Linked DNA regions of Homo sapiens. The protein of the gene in region 2 purifies or fractionates together with the protein of the main gene of each other region. This does not show direct contact. Each region holds a gene or a part of one and is shown on either strand. Other genes may lie near its edges. The genes, in order: NT5C2 and ASB2.

Evidence for each region.
Region 1: the proteins of ASB2 (region 2) and NT5C2 purify together in Homo sapiens (affinity purification with mass spectrometry, with the first as the bait; one large-scale study listed by BioGRID). This does not show direct contact.

Annotation. Positions count from the first base shown.
Region 1 is NC_000010.11:103,102,483-103,106,516, forward strand, and holds part of NT5C2 (cytosolic purine 5'-nucleotidase), read right to left. Parts: intron 3,320-4,034; coding exon 3,224-3,319; intron 2,900-3,223; coding exon of another isoform or gene 2,876-2,899; intron 1-2,875. UniProt on the Homo sapiens protein: Broad specificity cytosolic 5'-nucleotidase that catalyzes the dephosphorylation of 6-hydroxypurine nucleoside 5'-monophosphates.
Region 2 is NC_000014.9:93,970,071-93,973,570, reverse strand, and holds part of ASB2 (ankyrin repeat and SOCS box protein 2), read left to right. Parts: intron 1-3,500. UniProt on the Homo sapiens protein: Substrate-recognition component of a SCF-like ECS (Elongin-Cullin-SOCS-box protein) E3 ubiquitin-protein ligase complex which mediates the ubiquitination and subsequent proteasomal degradation of target proteins.

The DNA.
Region 1 (4,034 bases), on a different chromosome or scaffold from region 2:
TGTGCAACCCAGAATCACCCAGTTGACTCTCAGAATTTTTTCTTTTTTCTTTTTTTTTTTTTGAGACAGAGTCTCACTCTGTCGGCCAGGCTGGAGTGCAGTGGCGTGATCTCAGCTCACTCATATATTCAAGAGAGATTACCAAGGTAAAATAAGACCCGGCAAACTGAGCAGATTTGGCTGGGGGAACATTAAAGAGTCAAAGATGATGATGTCCATGCTAAGGTGTCTCTGAGAGGTGGTTGGTACGATGAACAGAAATATGAAAACTAGATAAGAAGTGATGTGAGAGTAGTTCTATTTTAGTGATACTAAGTTTGAAGTAAACTGATTTTTATTAGGCAATTAGAAACAAAGGTCAAGAACTTAAAAGAGATTCAGCCTTGAGAGATAACTGAGATCATCTACGTACAGATACTAGATGGAATCATGAAAAGTATTAGAGGAGATGAAACCACTTAGTGTGCAGAGAAGGAAGAGAAGAGACAGAACAGAACCATGAAGAAAATTCAAGGTTTAAAAGAAAAAAGCCAGTGAAGCAGAATTTGTTAAAGATGCAAAAACACTTCTAGAAGAAAACATTTCAGAGAAACTCAAAGGGAAAAATACTAAAATATAAAAATGCACAGTTCTGACAGTGAATACATGGAGATTAACAATGTAAATAAAGGAAATCAAATTTAAAGCTCACACTCAGAGTGACCTGGATTAATTCCTGCCTGGGTTTGTTAACTACAAATGGCATAAACTCTAGTTAGACATATAAAAATCACATTAGCTCCCTGTCTTAAGTCACTCTTCTGAGATGAGAGTTCCCAATAATGAATAACTTTGTAGAGTATCTTATCTTCTAGCTTTCCAAGATTTTCTTTAATAAAAGTAAGGTGGAAGGTAACAGTAAAAATATACTTTCTTCAGTTAGATTTAATAAGCTGACACTGTCTCCTTAGATACAATATACTTCCCTATTCCCTCCATCATTAAAGAAAAATTCCTTTACATAAAGATGGTTAACATTTATTAGGCAGTTAGAACCCAAATTGATTTATAAATATAGTTAGCAATTACATTGTAAACTTCAGTGTCAAATCACACTAGTATATATTTAAAATAAAAATCAATTTGGGGGAGGTAATATATCATAAAAGAAATGCTACACTTGGAATGGGAAGAAAACAGTTACAGCACAGATTACTACTAACTTTCTGTGACCCACAGAATAAAAATTTATCAAAAAATAAGGTCCTAACTCATTAGCAAAGCCTGATGGAGTCCTTCTTTTCCAGCCTTGTCTACCACTGTAATAGCTTCGATAACTTTCTTTCCCTCTATCTTCAGTCTCTTCTTTTCATGGGAATTTTAATTTTATTAATTTATTTTTATTTTTTTGAGATAGGGTCTTGCTCTGTTACACAGGCTGTACTACAGTGGCACCAACACAGCTCACTGCAGCCTCAACCTCCTGGGCTCAAGCACTCCTCCTGCCTCAGTCTCCCATATAGCTGGGACCAAAGGCATGTACCACCATGCCCAGCTAATTTTTGATATTTGTAGAGATAGGGTTTCACTTTATTGTCCAGGCTGGTCTCCTAGGCTCAAGAAGTCTTCTTGCCTTGTCCTCCCAAAGTGCTGAGATTATAGGCGTAAGCCACTGTGCCTGGCCAGCTTTTCTGTTTAACTCTAAAGACTGCACAGTGCTAAGTGCTATTTGAATGATTCTGCATTTACTCATAAATGACTTATTTTTGAAACACTATTAAATGCATTAGCAAAGGAGCTATGTGGAAACTTTATTGGCTTATTTAAGGGAAGAGAGGAAGTCTGTGGATCTTGAGTTGGAAATTTGATCGTAGTACTAACTTATCCAACTGCTTCTCTTTTCTTCTCTGCCTACCCCTCCCTTATAATACAAAAATTCCTTTTTAGACATAATAGAACCCTGGTTCATCTTCATTGAGATTCTGAGTTATGATGACAATATCTGTGTATAAAATAGCTTAAGTTACTAGTACAACCTGTAATTACTTCATATTCTAAATCCTGTTTCCTGATATTTTCATGGATCCTGAACAAACCCCCTCATGAAAGAAACAGTGAAAGAAATGTGGATGTAATCACTGGCCTGCTCAGATGTGTCAAGATGGGTGTTTACTTCACACCGTTCTCATGTATACATGGAAATCTCTGAGCCTGTGTAATGTCAGTAATGCCAACTAAAGAGTCTTAGATGCTTCAATTCTAAGGGGCATCCTGTGACCTCAAATCTAAAGGAAGCTCTGGTACAATTACAGTTGGTTTGTGCCTCTTATCACAAAAAAAGACATTGTCTTTTTAAACATTTCAATGTAGCCTGGTGTTTTTCCTATTCTGCCATCAAGAATGAATAGTAAATGGAAAAGTTACATAAGAGACTGACACACATCCTATTCTGGTTTTACGAGCTGTTGTTCTGACCTTAATACAATGTCAATAGTAAATAAGGTGGCATAACAGTAGAGAAAATGTATAACAGTAAAGCTATAGCTACAGAAGTTGTCAAATTGTGGCATTATGATTTGAAAATATCGGGACATTTCACAAAAAAATAGTAGATACTAAATTTCATCTGCTGTTTACTAGGGTAAAAAGTTCAAATTAGTGACAATAGTGGAAATATTTTTATTTTGAAAATAAAGCTTATTCTTATTTGTTTAAAATATTATTAGCACATATTCACTTTAACCTTATGTTTACATTTTTTTAATGACACAATCAAATGTCAGGATTCAAAGTTTAGATTCATTAGAATCTAAAAAACGTATTGGCTATTAAAAATCTCTTAATCATTTAAATTGCTATAGTTTAAAATTTTTTCAAAGCATTTTTATATACATACCTCTTCTGAACAGCTACCTGAGAACTGTATTAGAAAGAAGAAAATAAAAATCTTAGAATTTCAAATAAGTCAAAACTACTAAAGTTCTTCTGGGCAAGTTTTAAGATTAGTTTTGTTGTATGCTGTATAATTGGAAGGCACTTAATTTAAACAAAATGTAATTGCTAACTATATGTCAGTTTGGGTTCCAACTGCCTAATAAATAACTGTTAACTAACCTTATGTAAGGGAATTTGCTCTTTAATGATGAAAAGTAATAGGGAAATATATTACATCTGGGGAGATGATGTCATCTTCACATTGTTTGACTTTAACATTAGAAAGAGGCTAAAGGTTCTCTGTACTCACCCCCTTATAAAGTTAAATCCATGTGCACAGACCAAGAGGTTTCCATAGGCATCGACTTTCAAAAGATTTCCATACAGTGTGTCAAAGACAAGTCCCCTATGTGAAAATGAAGACATTATTGATAATGCAAAGTAATACAGGCAATAATTTTATGTAGTAGTATTTAATCATCATGAACCAACCTCATTTAATTCAAGCTTTGTACCAACTCAAAGTATGTCCTAATATAGCTAAAGTGAGTAAAATCTTAAAAACTAATTCTAAAGCAACTAAAAAATATTGACTCCGTCCAGACAGAAAATCATAATTGTTTTCTGTAAGGAATAAGTGCTTAATCAAACAAGGTATAAAAAACATTCTTCTTACTACACAGCTGGTACCATTCTAAAACATAGTCTTTTTTCTTGGACAACTGAGAAGGCTTATATTTTTCTCCATTAGATGCTGTATGTGGGATATATATGATAGCATCTCAAACATCATTTTCTTAATCTTAAATATTCCCTATCAAATCCAGAAATGGAAACTGCCAAGCTTCTATCATGTTAAGTGTATTAGAGAAACACGTACCTATTTGCCAACAGCCCCAAATAGCACCACCTGTGATTACTGCCCATCAGTTTTAGTAATCTCCTTTTTTACCTGTAAGTGGGTCTTCCTCAGTTGCAATAAACTGAGCTTAATTCAGGAACACCAAGATATGGTGTATATGGAAAGTTCATGGTAATTTTAGAATCAACATCAACCAACCAAAAAAACAACAAAGAATTATTCAATGTTTTGGGGGGTTTTTTTGTTAAGGATAAATCTG
Region 2 (3,500 bases):
TGTGGGTGCTTTTCTTAGCTGGTGGTGTGGGCACTGCCGCAGGTAGTGGGCATGTCCTGTGCAGAATGGATGCTCATCATTGCAACAGGGCACTTTCCACATTCAAAAAACCTTCTACAGGGAGGTTTTTCCTGTGTTTTTCCTTCTTCCCTCTCTTCCTCTCACCATCATTCTTGCTCTCTTTTTGGAGTGGCATCCTCAATGTACATCAATAAGTAAATAAATTACCAAGACTTTTCGTTAGGGTCTTAGACTCTTCGGGAGAGATTCACCAAGATTTGGATCAGCAAGAGGCGCTCCATTTCAGATGCAGCCTCAGTCTCCTCCTCTATACAATGGGCACAGAGTGTCTGCTGGCGTGGGAGCAGAGCCAGCTTTGGACAGGTTCAAATCCCTGGTTGTCACCTCCTACAGGGTTATGTAGGGGCAGTCACACCCCTACTCCATACAAAGAGAAGAGCCCTGTCTTGTGGAGTCAGCTGGGGCCTGCAGCCCTGAGCACACCTCTTGAGTCACCTCCAGCAGCCCCAGCCCAGCCTTGGAAGCCCCAAGGCCCTGGCACCCGAAAGCCGGGAGCTTGAAATCAGCATCAAAAGGTCTGAGATGACGCAGCCGGTGGTGGTGGTGGCTGGGGGTAAACTGGAAGCTTGGCCTTTGTGGGTGCTTTCCTTAGCTGATGGTGTGGGTCTGAGCAAAGGCTCAAACTCCTAGCAGCTGTGAGGCCCTAGACACCAGGCCCCAGGGCAGCCAGAGGCTTGAGAGCACTGCCCCCATGGCCAAAGGCCCACCCTGGCTACGACTTGGCCACTCATAGGGGTCAAGGGCAAGGTGGCTGGGATTCCATCCCCCCTTCCTTACCAAGGTCAGAGCATTTCTTAGCCAGAGCAGAGATGAAGCCTCCAGAGGGATGAGGTTTAGGGTCACGGAGCAACTGACTCCTTGCCATGCCCTTAATGTTGTGTCAGAGGGCCTGATGAAGACGGCGCAGGCTGACGTGGTCTCAACCTCTGTACCACATACATTCCAGGCCTTAGTCTCCTCATCCGCGCCATGGGAAGACCACTCTTCTCCCTAGTACTGAAAAAGTAAAATGAGGCAACCTATGAAAGTGGCCTGGATGGAGACAGGACAAGGACCCACAGGCACCAGCTTAATTTTTATTGATTAGGTTCTAAAACAACAGGACCCGGGAAGGGAAGAGAACAATGTCCTACACCTCCGAGCACTCCAGCTGGAAGCGTTTCCTTGGGTTTCCTAGGACCACCCTGGATCCTGGGGGGAAAGGCAGATCAGAAAGATAAGTTTTGGCAGAAGGAGAGAGCATTGCAAGGAAGGAGGTCGAGCGCCCTGGGTGCCAAGGAACAGCCCAGTTCCTGACTCCTCGTGTGTCCCCAGGCTAGCCCAAGCAGCCAGGTTTCAGGATTGCCTTAGCTACGGGTCATGTGATATTTGGGAGACCTTGAAGCTTTTGGAGTAGATTTATAGAAAGTATGTATATGTGTGTATATTATATATATAATATATATTATATTATTAATATAAAAATATATAATTACCTATTATATACTTATATGTTATATGTTATTATGTGTGTATATTATATAATATATATAATACATGTAGCGTGTATGTAGTGTTTTTGAATATGAACACACATACACACACACACATAGTCTTCAGTTTGATTCTGGCCTTCACTCAAATCTTGAAAAACATCCGGTGGTTGCTATTCATTGTGTGGGATGAATACTTGGTGTAAAATCAGATGTAGCCTCTAGTCTCTTCCTTGTCACTTTTTCCCTTAGTGTGCCTCAGTCTCCTCATCTATAGAATAGGAACTATAATACGCTTATAGATTTATTATGTGGTTCAAACTAAAGACAAATATGAGAGAGAAATTCACTGCAAGGGAAGGTGTTATGGTTATGATTCTCCCCATACCTGCTGCAGTGGGACGTAGTGACCTGAGGGTGACACATGGATCTGAACCACAGGCTTTGCATAAGAGCTAAACCTAAAAGGTACAAGTGAACCCTAACCAAAATACTCATGCAGCACTTGCTCTGTGTTCAGCACCATTAAATGAATTACGTGCTCACTAAATGGCTGCTCTTGTCATTTGTTGGCAGTCACCTCGTGCAGAAATTCAAGCCTCCAAAGTCTAGGGCAGCAGATGATGTGAGCAGAGAGGGCAGGGGGACAGGAGGGTTCCTGGAGAGTGGGGAATTTGAAAGGAGTGTGCAGAATCCATCCTGCACCCAAGCTGGCTTCGGGGGAGGGCGTGGAGATCCCCTTCCTCCCCAAGCTCCAGCCCCATGATTGACCCTTGGGACCACCCGGCAGGCTCTGCGCACAGCCCGGGGAGCTGACAGTCACAGCGGCAGTTTTGACCACAGCTGTCACGCGAAGGCTGGGCTTGGGGCTCATTTTCACTTTCACTCTCAATCTTGTTAAATGGAGGAGAGCTTGTGGGAATTCAAATCCCTTGGATGGAGCCTCCTAGAGAACCGCCAGCTGGGCACGAGTTTCAGGTAGCATCCTCCCAGCAGGAACAGGTTTAGGCTGTTTCACCCACTTTCTGGGATCACGGCAGAGAATCGCAGCATCTTGGGACCTGTGGAATAACACGAGCAGATTTTTAGGGGCCACCGGCTGTGTGCCAGGTGCTCCACATTTATACCTGTCACCTAATTTCACCTGACAACACCTCCACAGGCAGGATGCCATTAATATCTTCATTTTATAGATGAGCAAAGTGAGGCACCGAGTAACCTGCTTCACATCACGTGGCCAGGAGGTGGCAGAGCTAGGGTTGAGTATAGGCAGTGGGGCACTCGGGCCGTGCCACCGTCTACCACTGTGCAGTAAACTTCTCCATAACAGCTGTGCTTCCAAGGGCTTGAAGCACTGTCATGATCCTATCGTTCATTCACCCGTCTGTCCAGCATTTATTCAATACCTATTGTGTACCTGACTTTGGGTTAGTTCCTGGGGTTACAACATGAGTGCGACATAGTCCTGCTCCTCAGAAGTTTCTAGACTTTCTAGAGAGACAGGACCATAGCAGGCAGTCCAAGCAGTAGAATGTGAAGGGGGCCCTTGGAGGCAGCAGAGGACTCTCAGCCATCAGGGAGGCTTCCTGGTAGAGGAGATGCTGGAGCTGTTTCTGGAAGGGCACCTTCAGGGCAGGGTAGGCTGACGAGCAGCTCCATCCACAAACACAGCCAAGGATGCTAAGTGGCTTGTGCAGCCTCACATGTCCGACCCAAGTCCCTGGCATGACCCAAGCCTCTGGTGGAGCTTGGTGTGGTGGAGGATGGCTGCCAGCCTCCTTCTTGGCCCCGCCTTCCCAGCTGTGTCTCCTCTAGCCCCCAGTTTTCTGCTAAGACATCTGGAGAGTGACCACCTCCCACCCCAGCCCCTCAAACAACCACATAGACCCACCCCATCCACCGCCAGTTCCCGGGCAGACCCTGGCTGTCTGCAAACCTGGGTTGGTA